Regions from separate parts of the Homo sapiens genome. Here region 1 is linked to region 2. A link means that fine-mapping ties the variant in region 2 to the expression of a gene that starts in the linked region. Tissue or cell type: neutrophils. Region 2 holds a variant in brackets; the other region holds the start of a gene. All regions are shown on one strand. Distances are between the middles of the regions.

The links. PIP is the estimated chance that this variant, and not a neighbour inherited with it, causes the effect.
Region 1: SPRYD7 starts here. The variant in region 2 is fine-mapped to the expression of SPRYD7 in neutrophils (BLUEPRINT, PIP 0.95).

Annotation. Positions count from the first base shown.
Region 1 is chr13:49,932,365-49,940,471 of GRCh38, forward strand. SPRYD7 (SPRY domain containing 7) reads right to left here and starts at 3,976. Exons shown (of 5, transcript NM_020456.4): 1 at 3,766-3,976. The coding sequence starts at 3,871. RefSeq lists enhancers at 3,787-4,036, 4,907-4,956 and a silencer at 4,077-4,326.
Region 2 is chr13:49,971,333-49,979,439 of GRCh38, forward strand. No RefSeq gene overlaps it. Among named protein-coding and RNA genes, the nearest start is that of MIR3613, 21 kb to the right of the region's middle. RefSeq lists silencers at 1,273-1,465, 5,361-5,655. The variant C/T (reference allele first, on the strand shown) is at 4,996.

The sequences.
Region 1 (8,107 bases), 39 kb before region 2:
TCTTACATGCACTTTATTCTCGTAGAAAATTTTTTAGATGAAACGACATCTATAGATGAGAGTGAGAAAGAGAGACACTGTCTCCTGATGTGATCCTAGTACCAATTTGATTTAGGAAAATGTCTATCAGAGAATATACATAATTCTAACATGTAAGAATACACAGAATTACATAATTCTAATATGTAAGAAATAGCCCATACACCAATGCATAACTCCCCATACTTGTGGCCACTACCACCACTTTGCTGGCAATAACTGTACCAGCCAAGCAGATCTGAATATTCGAACTGTATGGGACTCTTCCAGAAGGGGTTAAATAAAATTAGGTCATAGTAACAAAAGGTTGAATTAACAGTTAAACAAAATTATTTGGTACAAATACATAAAAGAAATGCAAAATTTTCAGATTCTAACACAATTCTAAACTGGTTAAGAGATGCTCTCCCTTAAACAAGGCAAAACTGAGATCCTATTGTATGATTACTAAAAATTCATTAACATCTTTTTTTTTCTAATTAAAAAAGTTAACCCCCAAATTCTGGGAAAGTACCTTTATAAATAATTTGCATCTGGCTACTCCATATACCTCCAGTAATTTCAACTGGAGAGCATCCTCCTTGATGGCAAAGACCATGCAGTGCTTGGCATTGAGCAGCTGCTCATCAAATAACTGATAAAGGTTGAATTAATATGCTGTGCTAAGCACTTTGTAGTGGACATGCAGTATCTGTTCTCCCTCTCCCGACAGACTTCCCTCTGGAGATCAAAACAGTTCCAAGAAAGCTGACTCAATCTCTGCTTCAGGTGTACAACATTTGATCTAGGTTAAGGCAATCAGTGCCCTCCACATTTCTTGGCCACAGTAACTGAGTCAAGAACTGCTACATGACCTAATCAACTACAATCAGAATCTCAGGACTTTTGCAGAGCACAATGGGATATAACACTCTTGGCCAGGCGAGGTGGCTAACACCTGTAATCCCAGCTCTTTGGGAGGCTGAGGCAGGCAGATTACTTGAGGTCAGGAGTTCAAGACCAGCCTGGCCAACATGGTGAAACCCCCATCTCTACTAAAAATACAAAAATTAGCCAGGCATGGTGGTGGGCGCCTATAGTCCCAGCTACTCAGGAGGCTGAGACAGGAGAATTAATTGAACCCAGGAGGCGGAGGTTGCAGTGAGCTGAGATCAGGCCACTGCACTCCAGCCTGGGCGACAGAGCGAGATTCCCTCTCAAAAAAAAAAAAAAGAAAAAAAAAGAAAGAAAGAATATTCAGGGTGTTTATGAGTCATTAGGGAATCATTTTAAGCTTATCCCATTTCTCTTAAGTACACAGACGGTTTTAGAATCTGTACTTTTAATGATTGGTGCTGCTTAGACGGTCAAGGCAAATTTGAGTACAGCCAGAATGCCACATAAACATAGCCACAGAGGATGTTTTAAGAAACATAAATTTCCAAATGAGCGGTGTCCCTTTCAAAGTAGCTGCCTTGGAAGTCATTTGTTTCTAAAATGTCGATTCACAATTAAAAGCCAAAGATATGGCATCAATGATAATACTTACAAAAATTATGCCATAGAAAATTCCAAAAGAGGAATTCCAAAGTGGTTTTAAGTAATACAACATCACTAAAATAAGTGACAACCCTCGGAGAATCACTTGAAGTATACAGACAATTTTGTTAAAAAAAAAAAAGCAATCACATTTTTTAGGTTATTTAATATAATAATCTTTCACACCACCAAATCCATGTGTTTCTATTTTCAAGTCAAGATCAATTCATGCTTGAAACATGTTCTTCTAACTCAACAACCCTTTTCTTTCATTTTATTCAGGTTCTCAAATCAGGCTCCTCTGTGATTGAATAATTTAAGTTTATAGAAAGACAGGCTAAGAAAAAACTTCCTGGCCGGGCGTGGTGGCTCACCCCTATAATCCCAGCACTTTGGGAGGCTGAGAGGCAGGCAGATCACGAGGTCAGTTCGAGACCAGCCTGACCAACATGGTGAAACTCTGTCTCTACTAAAAATACAAAAATTAGCCGGGCTTGATGGTGGGCGCCTGTAATCCCAGCTACTCAAGAGGCTGAGGCAGAAGAATTGCTTGAACCCGGGAGGCGGAGGTTGCAGTGAGTGGAGATTGTGCCACAGCACTCCAGCCTGGGCAACAATAGTGAAACTCCGTCTCAAAAAAAAAAAAAAAAAAAAAAGAAAAGAAGAAGAAAAAACTTCCATGCAGTTAGAAAATTTGGAGATGACATTACTCTATTTCATCCAGTTAGTAGCTGACAGTTGCTGGACAGCTTTGGAGAAATAAAACACAGTGGAATGAGTATATCTGACCAGCTCTTCCTAGAGGAAACAGATGACAGAGAAAAGGAATGCTCCAAAGAGGAGACTGCAGTAATTCAAGAGTCTAACAGTAAAGATAGGAAGAAGTGCTGCAGTTGATCATGAGTTCCAGGAATTATGTATGGTTGTCCTTCACTATATTCTCAGCACTTATAACAATGCCTGCCACCTGATAATTGCTTAATAAATATCACTTCAGTAAATGAGTAACTGAAATGGAAATATTTTCTGAGGAAAACTATAGAATTTGAACTCCATCGTCTATAAATAATGATGGATAAAAAATAATTTAAAGATTACTTATGTATTAAGGTTCTGTACTACATTTGGGAGATCTGAGAATTAAAAGTAAATACACACATACAAGGTGATTATATAGTTATCACATTTAGTATGTGTTATACAAAAATACAGTGGGCAGAGTGTTTCCAGAATTATAAGGAAACTGGGCGAGAGAGTTTTATCATAAATATTAAGAAGTGCCTTTTTATTTCAATGCACTGTCCTTTAAACAATCAGAAACGTGTAAAAAATCAAAAGTGCAGAAGTACAGTTAGAATAAAATAATCCACAAAAAGACAGTACTCTAACTGAAATAATTATATTGGGAAATCTCTCCTTCTAGAACCACATTCCAGAAGCATGAAACTACCTGGGAAAAGTCTAAGAAATAATAAGGTGGTGAAAGAGGCTATGATGGGAGAGGAAGAATGTTAGATAAATTATATGGATTTGGAATTAAAAGGATAAAGCAAGATGCAAAGGAGCAAAGTGCTATTTTATTTTTCAACAGTTAGACCTGTTGGGAAGAGGCCAGTCAGATGAAATTACAGTACCTCTCACAATGACTAAGGAGTCGGGCAATGGGAGGTTTTAGTTGAAATGGCAAGTTCTGACCTGAGGTGCGACTTCAGACTTCTGCAGTCTGCCTTGTTTCGACTTTAGGAGGTGAGAGGAAAATTACTTCCAATAATATAGGATTCAACCTATAAATGATGGGGCTCAAGAGACAGGACCGACAGTCAGGGCAGGAGGAGGAGCAAGACCGGACCTAGAAGCATTCTGAAAATGTGTAGGTTTTCACTGGGGCGCGCCAGAAGGGCACTCTCCGCCCCCTCGCCCGAGGACGTGTGACATCTCCGGAGGAAGCCTCCGAGATTCCTGTGAAAATGGGAGGTCCACACGCCCATTCGCGATGACAGACACAGAGAGGGCTGCGCAGCCTTGAACACAGAACCGGGCCCAGGTGGAGTCCGCCGGCTTCTGGAGAGATCTGCGAGACGAAATGGTGTCGGCGCAGCGTCGCCGGCGCGGCGGGGCAGCGTGGGGACCCTCTGACCCTGAAGGTCCCCCTGCCCGCCGCGCCCGGCCCCCGTGAGCCGTTGGGTCTGGGGAAGGGAGGGCCCTTACCCATGTGCTGCGTGTCCAGCTGCACGGCCGGCATCTCCTTCAGAGGGATGTGGCCAGTCCCCCCGTCTCTGCAGCACCGCAGGCAGCACAACACCGAGGTGGCCATCGCGCAGGGACCACCGACTCCGCCGCCGTCCCTAGACCGAGGCGACACTGCCCCCCGCCGCTCAGCTCCGTCTCCTGCCCCCGCCCGAGGTCCGGACTTGTCTATGTGGAGCTCGGAGGCCGGTACAGCGACACCCTAGGCCGGGAGGGCGCAATGCAGGCTGAGCTTAGGCTGGCCTGCGAGGAAGACGCGGAGAATCAAGGGGCCGGGGAGAGACCGGACAGGGCGAGCGGCCGGGCTGGGCCGGGGAGACGGGTGGGGCTAGTGGCGCGCGGAGGCGTGGCAGGGGGCGTGGCGTTGCGGGCCTGCGGATGTGGGACGGCGTGCGCCTGCGCACCAGCTGGTTTTTTCTCCTTGGGCGGTTTCGCGCACGCCCCCAGGGCTGACAGGTGAGTGGGGCTGTCTGTCCCTCAGTACTTCCAGGGGTTTTCCTATGCAGAATTTTTAAAACGCAGCACCCCTTGGTCCCGGCCTCGACATTATTTCTAGGGATGGATTGACAGAAGCGAATCAGTTTGGGGGAAGGGGAGCTAATGGAAATGACTTCCGAGTTTTCCCTCCGCGGGCCCAGGTTGAGCAGGCTTTGCCACCACGGAGAGCCCCAGTCTCCCTGCCGTGGCTGGTTTCCCTCACATGCTAAATAGACTCACGTGGGCCCCAGGAGTAATGCCTGTTAGTGACTGCACTGTGGATGTTCACCGGGGCTCACGCGGGCCCTAATGCATTTTCGGTGCAGAGACGCGCCCTACCTGGCCCATCGGGCTGCGTGGTCCGGGGCGCGTGGGAGGCCGCCCTGGGAGCAGAACGCTGGGGCGGGGTCGGGGGCGATTCTTGACCTGCCTCTTCCAAGCTCCCCCTGTCTGGTGCACTGAGGGTTCCGAGGAATGTGACGGGAACCCAGGAGGCTGCGGGAAGTCTGCTGGGTCCCGAGGGAAGCCTTCGGCTCCTACCGTCCGCTACTTTCTGCTTCCACACGGGAGGCTGTCACCTGTCATCTCCTTCCCCACTTAGATCATCCTTCCGTGGTAGATTTTACATCTTCAGGCCGGGTGCAGTGGCTCACGCCTGTAATCCCAGCACTTTGGGAGGCTGAGGTGGGCGGATCACCTGAGGTCAGGAGTTCAAGACCAGGATGGCCAACATGGTGAAACCCCGTCTCTACTAAAAATACAAAAATTAGCTGGGTGCGGTGGTGCACGCCTGTAATCCCAGCCACTCAGGAGGTTGTGGCACGAGAATCGCTTAAACCCGGGAGGCGGAGGTTACAGTGAGCCTAGATCGCGCCACTGCCCTCCAGCCTGGGCAACAGAGACTCTGTCTCCAAAAAAAAAAAAAAAAAAAAAAAGATACCGCTTGGCATCTGGAAATGTCTGGGACGACCTCTAGAATTAACCTAGCTCAAACCTCTGTTCCCAGATCAGTTTCATCCTGAAGGCTTCCCTAGGGATGGATCATCAAGTCCTGGGAAACTGGACATAAAATGCCCACTACTTAAATAATGATTTCCCATACGTAACTTTTAGTGACCCGAGTTATAAATGTTTTTTAAGGAGGATTTCTATCTATGCAATGAGGGGAATTTTTCAGGTTCCTGGTTCTCTTTCTATAAATGGTGTTTTCATTACAATACTAAGGGAAAGTTTTGTACGTTGAAATTAAGTTACCATAGAATTTAATAACCAAGGTGATTATTAAACTGATTGAGGGTTGGTCTTTTCCCCCATTGCGTATGCAGTACTTTCTTGGTAATCATTTCACACAAGAAATTTTCTTTTATGACAAACCTTCATCGTTATGCTGGGAATTAAGTGCTTTGATTTTTTTTTTTTTTTTTTTTTTTAACCCCAGGGAAGTGCTGGGGGCGGGGCAGGGGGTGAGAATTTTAACAGAATATTGGAGAGACAAAATTTTTCTACCGTTCATATATATATATCTAGTTGAATTATTTCAAGATTTCAAGGTCAGTATTGTCCCCATTTTATAGGTGAAGAAATAGGCCTAGAGGTACTAAACTTTACAACTTCAGGTGAGCAGGAGATAAACAGGTAGGATTCAAGGCTTACCAGTCTGATTCCTGTTAGAAGAAAAACTTCAGCTGAACTAAATTTAAAGGAGTTAAACTGAGCAGTGAATGACTGGGCAGCCCCCAGAATCACAGCAGATTCAGAGAGACTCCAGGGATGCCTCGTGGTCAGAACAAATTTTTAGACAAAAAGAGGGAAGTGACGTACAGAAATCAGCAGTGAGATACAGAAACAGCTGCATTGGTTACAGGGGGGCGTTTGCCTTATTTGAACACAGTTTGAACAATCAGCAGTGTATGACTGGTTGAAGTATGGCCGCTGGGATTGGCCAAGACTCAGCTATTGTTACAGGTGCATACTCCTAAATTAGGTTTTCAAGCTTGTCTGCCTATTAACCTAGGTTACAGTTCGTACACAAGGACTCAAATACAGAAGTACAGAGTCCTTCTCAGGCCATATTTAGTTTGCTTTAACACTGCCTCTCAAATTCTTTCTCTTATAATTAATGCTATAATCCTCTTAAACATGCTCTCAGTTCAAAATGCAGATTTGCCCTTTTTTGTGTGTTTCATTTATCTCCACATTGGATATAAGCTGCCATAATGCATGTATAGACAAAATATAATAGAATTAGTTGTTATAAAGTAAAAATTTTGTTCAGAAATATTATTAAAAGAAGTACATGTATTATATATGTAATAAACATTTAGGCCATTCAAGTCAGTCACATCTTCAATGAAAAGCCAGACACTAAATGGCCGTGAATTGGACATTACTATAGAGAGGCAGAAGGGCCATAGTCTTTCCTAGCTGGAAAAGTAATTTGCTGGGGCGCTGCCCGGTGCACTTTGCCCCCATCCTAGCAACTCGAGTGTGCTCAGCAGAATGAAGTTAGCAAAACTGGTTAGCTCCTGAAACAGACTTCCCTGTCTTGGCAGATTAACACCATCCATGAGCTCACTTTTCCTTCTAATATCTGGGATTCTAATATCCATTCATTATTACTTTCAAAGGAATTATCCTCTCTTTTTGAAAAGCACAACGTTAAAGATGTTTTGACACTCTTTCACAGCTATCGCTTTAAATAACAATCACAAATAAAGCCAAAAATAGTTTCTCAAGGTCATTTATCTAAGTCATAAGCAATAAGAAAGAATGACTACTTCAAAAAAAGAGTCTGTCTGCTTCCAAGACATGCCAGGAACTCGAGAACTGAGAACAATAATGTAAAGCTTGTGTTTCAGAGTTGAGATTAGCATTATGCTTAAGATTTTCTTTAATGTTTTTTATGCCAGCTGGACGTCTTCTGTTAGTGAATTTCCCATTCTGTACTGGGTCATACGAAATGAGTTTTTAAAAACTCATTAATCAGTTATTAAACAAAACATTTTTCCTTAGACTAATCCAAACCACATTTGTGATCTTTTTAAAAATCAGAAACATTAACAAAAACTCATTTTTCTAAAAACTGACATATTTCTGGAGCCTTGACCAATTCATTATTATAATTTTGAGTAACTAATAGTGATTGACATTTATGTAGTGCTTATTATTGCCAGGCACTGTTCTAAGTGTTTTTTAAAAATAAACTAATTTAGTCTTTGTAACAACCATGTGAGGGAAAAACTATCCTCCACTTTACAGATGAGGAAGCTGAAGAAAAAATAAGAAATGTACTCAAAAGTTGCACAGTCAATGAAGGATGAAGCTAAATTCAAACAGACATTCTGGCTCTAGGGTCTGTGTTCTTAACCACTCTGCAAACTGCCTCCTAGGGTGTTACATTTAAAAATACATTCCTAGGTCTGGTGCGGTGGTTCACGCCTGTAATCCCAGCACTTTGGGAGGCCGAGGGATATGGACTGCCTGAGCTCAGGAGTTCGAAACCAGCCTGGGCAACATGGTGAAACCCTGTCTCTACTAAAAACAAACAAAAAAATTAGCCGGGCATGGCAGTGTGTGCCTGTAATCCCAGCTACTTGGGAGGCTGAGGCAGGAGAATCGCTTGAACCCAGAGGCGGAGGTTGCAGTGAACCAAGATCGTGCCATTGCACTCCAGCCTGGGTGACAGAGCAAGACTCTATCTCAAAAAAAAAATAAAAAAATAAAAAATGAATATACATTCCTAATTTGTATTTGTCTCCTTCTATCCCCTTTCCTCAGAGACTGACATTTAAATTTACTTGGCATGAATTGTGCTCATTTAATCTGG
Region 2 (8,107 bases):
TTTTTATTGTCCTTGTCCTGTACCCCCAGCAATAAAAAAAAAAAAAAGACTTAAAAAAATTATGGGGCCTATCGGCTGGGTGTGGTGGCTCATGCCTGTAATTGCAGCACTTTGGGAGGCTGAGGTGGGCGGATCACCTGAGGTCGGGAGTTCAAGACCAGCCTGACCAACATGGAGAAACTCCATCTCTACTAAAAATACAAAATTAGCCAGGTGTGGTGAGCATGCCTGTAATCCCAGCTACTTGGGAGGCTGAGGCAGGAGAATCACTTGAACCCGGGAGGCGGAGGTTGCAGTGAGCCAAGATCAAGCCATTGCACTCCAGCCTGGGCGACAAGAGCAAAACTCCGTCTCAAAAAAAAAATTATGGGGCCGGGCGCGGTGGCTCAGTCCTATAATCCTAGCACTTTGGGAGGTAGAGGTGGGCAGGTTACTGGAGCCCAGGAGTTCAGGACCAGCCTGGGCAACATTGTGAAACCCTGTCTCTACAAAAAAGCTACTCTGGAGGCTGAGGCAGGAGGACTGCTTGAGCCCGAGGTTGAGGCTGCAGTGAGCCGAGATTGTGCCACCGCACTCCAGCCTGGGTGACAGAACAAGACTCCGTCTCAATTAAAAAAAAAAAAAAGGAAATTTCTGAAGTGATAGTAATGTTCTATGTCTCGATAGCAATTTGGGATACAAAGGTATAGGCATTTATTATTATTAAAACTTGGAAATTTACACACAAGCACATAAGATTTATACATTTCATTGTATACATATTTTACTTCAAAAGAAAAAAGTCAACAAATATTTAACCTAGTCAATGATATACATGCTGAGTTATTTAGGCGGAAGTCTACTGATGTCTACAATTTACTTTTAAATGCGCCCAAAAAAAAAAAAAACAGGGATTGACGAATGCTTAGAGAAAGGTACAGACATGTGATAAGCCAACTATAGTGAAATGTTAGTGGTAGTCTACATGGTAGGTATATGCTGTTCACTATAAAATTTTTTCAACTTTGCTCTGTTTGCAAATTTTCACAATAATATATTGGGGAAATGTCTAGAAATGTGATGCTACCCTAGGTCAGCAGGAACTGTGAAAGATTAGACCTGTATTCTGGTTCCCAGATGCTAGAGCCTTTATTTTTTTTGGGGGGGTGGAGGTGGAGTCTCACTCTGTCGCCCAGCCTGGAGTGCAATGGTGTGATCTCGGCTCACTACAACCTCCACCTCCCGGGTTCAAGTGATTCCCCTGCCTCAGCTTCCCAAGTAGCTGGATTACAGGCACCTTCCAGCATGCCCAGCTAAGTTTTTGTATTTTTAGTAGAGACGGGGTTTCACCAGGTTTGTCAGGCCGGTCTCAAACTTGATCCACCCGCCTCGGCCTCCCAAAGTGCTGGGATTACAGGCGTGGGCCACCACGTCCAGCCTGCTAGAGTCTTTTATACTTGATATAATTTCTTGAATTCTGATTTCTTGAGGTTTTGTTTACTTAAATCTAGTTATCTCATCTCCCTTCTACTTTCACTTTCTGGTTTATCTAGTAATTTGTTCATTCATTTTCAAATATTTACCTTTCCCTACTAGGAACCAGGCCCTGTGTAGGTGCTGGGGATACAGTTTTGCTTCTGCTCCCATGGAGCTTCCATCGTGGCTTATTCCCAGTAACCAGCACCTCCAACTCCCTTAATTCTATCAGGAATGCTGTTTCCTACATCTTTGAGGCTACGACAGAGAGGGCCAGTTTATCCATTGAATAGTATAGGCCCCACACCAAGGGTCTGGGAGCTTTTTACAGTTCTATGAAAAATGTTTTATGCATGAAAAAAAGAATCTCCAATTTACAAAAGAAAATCGCAAAATCCTATACATTGCCAAGGCTGTCGAAATGAACTCCTAGTCTTTTTGATTCCCTCTTTTTTTACAGCTCTGAATACCATAGGACTGCCAGCATTTCGGGCCCCAGTAGCAAATCTAGCCCTAATATAGATGCTGTATGGGAATAAGACACTCCAATAGTCAGATGGATGCCTAAGCTATCATAGCCTAATGACATTGCAACTTCATTCTTTGAACTTCTTGTGCTGATCTGTTGTTCAGCAGTCCACCTTCTGATTCCCATGTAGGTCTGCGGAGAGGATGCAGTATTTCTTTGGGTATTTCTAGTCTCTGTAACAGTGCTTTGTCAGGTAAACCCATAAAATAGCTTGTGATTAAGAGCTGTCACACCACATGTCTAGAATTTGAGAAGGAAATCGGCCAATCCGGGTGCAGTAGCTCACGCCTGTAATCCCAGCACTTTCGGAGGCTGAGGCGGGTGGATCACTTGAGGTCAGGAGTTCGAGACCAGCCTGACTAACCTGGTGAAACCCCGTCTCTACTAAAAATAAAAAAAATTAGCTGGGTGTGGTGGTGGGCACCTGTAATCCTAGCTTGGGAGACTGAAGTAGGAGAATTGCTTGAACCTGGGAGGCAGAGGTTACGGTGAGCCGAGATCGCACCACTGCACACCACCTGGGTGACAGTGTGAGACTCCATCTCAAAAAAAAAAAAAAAGGCAATCATGTCAACATTATTATTATTTTTTTGGTCCCTTATGGCCATACATTTCTCAGTGTAAATTAAATTGCTAATTTAAGAGGGACAAGGAATAGTCTTGCACATCTTCTCATCCATACTTTTAGTTTTAAACTTAGTTCTAGTTGATTCAGGCCTTGTGAAGCCTTGTTTTATCTTATTCTCAGCATCTAGGTTCTAACCCCTACTGTTCTCCCATTATTGACTGTCCCTTGCCAGGCCTCTCTTAACAGCTGAACCCTGGGCTTCTGTTTCTCCATCTTTTTTTTTTTTCTTTTGAGACGGAGTCTGGCTCTTATTGCCCAGGCTGGAGTGCAATCGCGTGATCTCGGCTCACTGCAACCTCTGCCCCCTGGGTTCAAGCGATTCTCCTGCCTCAGCCTCCTGAGTACCTGGGATTACAGGCATGTGCCACCACACCTGGCTAATTTTGTACTTTCAGTAGAGATAGGATTTCTCCATGTTGGTCAGGCTGATCTCGAACTCCGGATCTCAGGTGATCTGTCCACCTTGGCCTCCCAAAGTGGGAGGCCACCGTACCCGGCCTGTTTCTCCATCTTTAACTGTGTTGTTTTAGGTCCTCTTGGGTAAAGCCCCGTCAACTCAATCCCCAGGTTTTTTGGGCCATAATGATGCCCCTGAGGTTTGTGCTCCCGGAATGCCCCAGAGCTGGAAACTAGGCAGCTTTTGCACATAAAATTACTTTATTATAAAGGTTTCCCACTAATACATACTAACAAGTATGAGATATTGATTTTAAAAACTTTGTTTTAACCAAAGAAAATAACAGAACAATGCCTTATAAGCCAATATTTAAATAAAACAGAGCATTATGAAATATTTTATTTTTATTTGTTGGTAATTATATCTGGATGGCTCATGAAATTACTGTAACATCCTTGATTTTATTGTTCCCTCAGGAATTTCCTCTCTATTTTAAATAAAATGTGTTTTATGCACTGAGTACATTTAGTATCTCCACTCTGTTAGACAATTACAACACTGTAGATACACAGAGCTATGCAATGTGCCTATTTTAACTATAGATTAGCTTCCTAGGAAGAACAGTGTTGGTATCCTTTGCCATTTAGAGTCAAAAGGAGTCTGATGGCAGTTCTTTACAGTGACTGTTGAGATGACTGAATCTTCCTGAGCCAAGTCTTCACATCTCTATTTTGTTGTTTTAATTTGAATAACTATGAAAAGATTGATTTTTTTTTTTTTTTTTTTTTAGGACAGGGTCTCACTCTGTCACCCAGGCTGGTGTGCAGTGGTGCGATCATGGCTCACCGCAGCCTCCATCTCCCTGGCTCAGGTGATCCTACCATCTTAGCCTCCCAAGTAGCTGGGACTACAGGCTCCCACCACCACCCCCGGCTAATTTTTGTATTTTTTGTTAATCCTCCCACCTTGGCCTCCCAAGGTGTTAGGATTACAGGTGTGAGCCACTGTGCCCAGCCAAAAAAGACTGAAATCTTTTATTTCTGATGGAGACCTCAAAGAGCTCACTGCATAGGACTGACCCCAGGTTGCCTTTATATTTCCTGCATTTTTCTCCTGTTGCTCTTCAGAGAAGCTGTATGATATAAATGAATGAATGAATGTGTGTGTGTGTACACACACATATATCTCCATTCAAAAGCTATAGCACATGCATGTTTGTGTGTATGTGTATATATGTGCATGTATATAAGTATATATGCATACACACATATACACACACACAAAGGTACAGAAAATATATATCTTGTGACTAAAATTCCCTGAACTACCAGTAACTCCAGAAATTCTATTCTGGAAAACAATGGCTAACATCTAATTCATTATCTTAGAATTATCACAAAAGGAATATGAAAATGTGGTTTCTAGTGCAATGCAGTTAAGATAGGTATTCTTGTAGGCCATGGTTCCAAGAAATTTGTTTGACAACTGTACTGAGTAGTATATTTCTCCACTTCCTTTATTTTTTTCCCTTACCTTTTTTGAAAAAAAAAAAATGAAGAAAAATGTGTTCCTCTTTCAAGTTCTTTTTCTCTCCTGGCTTATACAGTATGTTACCAGCAGAACTTTCTCTAAAATGAAAGGAAGTCATTGCTAAGAAGAGACAAAAAGTTAACAGGATTAAGGGAGTAAAAAGGCACATGGAATTTCTGGGTGTGTCCAGAATCTGAGAAGATTTGAAAAGAGGAGCAGAAAGAATTTTTGTATTTTAGAAGTTGAGGGGCCCTCCTGGCCTAGTTTGAAAAACACAATCAGATACAATTTGAAAAAAGTCCAACAAAATCTAGTGGGAAGATAAGCTAGAATCTTGTTACAAAAAGTGTCACGGGCCTTGGTTGTATATTTTAAATGAACTTCTTAATTTCATATCAAAATGCGTAGATACCTCCTGACCCCCATTCTTGCCCTCCTCCATTTCCCTGTTAAATC[C/T]TGACCTTTCTCTGTAGACCTTCCCATTTCCACCCTGGAGGTCTGGCTGTCAGGACTACTCTCAGGTTGCCTGGGTCTCCACGGTGGCACCCATTAGCCGTGTTGCTTCTGGGCAGGGCATCTGTTTCTGTGCAAAGAGAAAATGCTAGGGTGAGTCACCAGTCCTTCTCTCCTAACAAAAAAGCATTGTACTGTACAGTTTGATTTCGGCTCTTGTGTGCAACTTGTGATTGCAAACTAATGGGGACATGAGGCACAGCTCCAGTGACACACCTCTCAGGTTGCATTATAATGATCTGATTGGGATGTACCCCATTAGACCGTGAGATCCTTTAAGCCTAGGATGCTTTTATTTTTGTGTTCCCAGCCCTAAGCACACTGTGCCTAGCTCAGGGTAAGCACTAAACAAATGTTTCTTGATGAGAATGCTACAGGAGGAAGGGAAGGGTTGTACTCTACACAAAGAGCGGAAAAGCTACCCTTTAAGAAAGAGACTCATCTTCGCATGGCCTGCAGAGGGCGCTCTTGCATCATAGCTATACCATGCATCCTTTGCCCATCACTGGTTTCCTTGAGCAGTACCTTTTTGGTAAAACCACAGGTGTGAGACTTTGGAAATTTAGACTTAAACCTGCCCAAACACATTAGAATATCATCAGTTGCACAGAACAAATCCACATTACAATTATTCCAAAGGGACAAGAACATTCCAGAATTTGCTTAAAGAATACTAAGCCATGACATCTCAGAAAGTCAAACCTAAAGAAGAAAAATTGCCTGGTTAGTCTTCCGGGAAATGTTAATAATTCTTAAATTTGGAAGGCTCCTTATACTCACTTGATGAGCCAGTTCATCTAATCCAACTACCTCATTTCTCAGATGAGGAAACTGAAGTTTATAAAATTCCTCAAGGTGATGTATCTACAGAAAAATTATACTCTCAATTCAGGCTTTAGATGTGTGTTGAAAACATGGCAAGGTGTCCATTTGGAAAAAATGCACCTAGAGCTTTCTCTCTCTCTCCCTCTCCTTATTTAAATAGAAAGATTTAAAAATAAAAATATGGCCAGGCATGGCATCTCATGCCTGTAATCCCAGCACTTTGGGAGGCCAAAGTGTCAGGAATGCTTGAACCCAGGAGTTCGAGACCAGCCTGGGCAACATAGCGAGACCCAGTTTCTACAAAAAATTAAAAATTAGCCAGGTATAGTGGCATGTGCCTATAGTCCCAGCTACTCAGGAGCCTGAGGCAGGAAGATAGCTTGAGCCTAGGAGGTCAAAGCTTCAGTGAGCTGTGATCACACCACTGGACTCCAGCCTGGGCAACAGAATGAGATCCTGTCAAAAAAAAAAAAAAAAGTACTGTAGTAACTGCTGAATAAAATACATAAGACTGGAAAGACACTATTTTAATGGTGAATCTGGACAGCACTCCAAGGGTACATTTTAACAGGTTGGAAGTAGGCTTTTAACATATTATGGGGGGGATCAACTGAGTAATAAATAACACAGAATTAAAAAGTGTTGGTTAGCCAAACTGACCATCAAATTGAGAGCCAAAAAGCCATTAAGTTATGATTCTGGACAAGGCTCTGATTGCCACAGTTCAGAAAAGTTATTTGACATCTTTTTCACATTGTTAAGCTTAAAAAACAAACCCAAACTCAAATCCCCAAACCCTCAAAGCATCAAGTGCTTGAAGCATTTCTAATATACCTTCCGCATCAACCCTCACCTCCTTCTTGTTTCAGAGAAACCATGATCCTCCTCCAGGCTGGTTCTTAATCAGCACCCCCTCCCTTCCCTGGGTGCCTCCCATTTGTAGGCAGCCATTATTGGGCTGTATTCTGGTTGTGTTGAGGCTGGCAGGAAAGAGGAACAAGGATAGCATGTTCATGTGGTGTGAGTGGTCTCAGCTTCTAGGCATGCTGGGGGAAAGGGCAGTCCTGTGGCCCTGTGAGAGGCCCACTCAGACCCTGGCCAGCTCTAAGGGCTAAAGCAGCTCTGAGGTGTAGCACTTCACTTCCATCGGTTTTAGAGGCCCTACCTGGGGAGAAAAACGGCAGAAAAGCAGCCCTCAAAGAAATGCTACCATGGGATATGGCCTCAAGAGAGGAGCCTCAGCCTGAGATGAGTTGGGGGGTGGCCTTGAAGAAAAGAGGCCCTGGCTTCAGGGGCGTGGGGGAAGACAGATAAGGTGTTGGAAGGAAGCCACTCAGGATTCTTTGGAAAGCGAGGACAGTGAAGTTGGAGATTAAGGACCCGTAAACAGGGCAAATTACAGGAATTCTCCCCAGCCAACGGGAAGGGAAGGGCAGGGCCTGAGCACTTTCCTGGCCTCTCAAATTTGAAGATGCCTGGGGGTCACTGGGGAATCTTGTTGAAATGCAGAATCTGATCCAATAAGTCTAGAATCCTGCCTCAGATTCTGGATTTCTACCAAGCTCCCTGGTGAGGCTGCAGGTTCTTAGGCCCCACTTTCAGAAGCAAGGGTGTCTTCTAGACTTCAGAATAGAGAAAGTTGAACAACAGAGACCATGTACCAGAGAGTCATCTATGGGCAAATTCGTTCGGAGGAAGTCCTTCTAGCTCCAGTTCAAATTCAAGGTTGTCTTTGCAGATTCCCAGGTAGTAAAAGGATTTTAGGAGTTCAATTATTGGGCAAGGAGGGGAAAGGATCCCAGATTTAAGGACCCCTCATCAATATCCATTGGGGCTGGGAAGAAGAGTGGCTGGTTTTCCATTAGGTAGGGGGCCCAGATCACTAATAATCAGGGCGATCTGGTGAGGCAGAAGATGCCAGCAAGAAATGCCCTGGAGGGCCTGAAGCAGCTGCTGAATTCCCCATGAGCAGCTTTTCACATGCTACCTGAAGGCAGCCACTGGGAGGTTTTGAAAGAAGATACTAAGTGACTCCGCACTAGCACTTGCCACACTAGATAACCTGGTGAGAGAAGCTGCTAATTGTAATAGAGGCAGAATGTTATCTGTACTGTTTAAAACAAGTTTTCCAGGGGGAAATGAGGACAGGCCAATGCAGCCAGAAAGCACTGGGTGTTGGCTTTGCAGAAAGCTGTTAGGAACAGGGTTGCCAGGTGTCCTGTTTTGAACT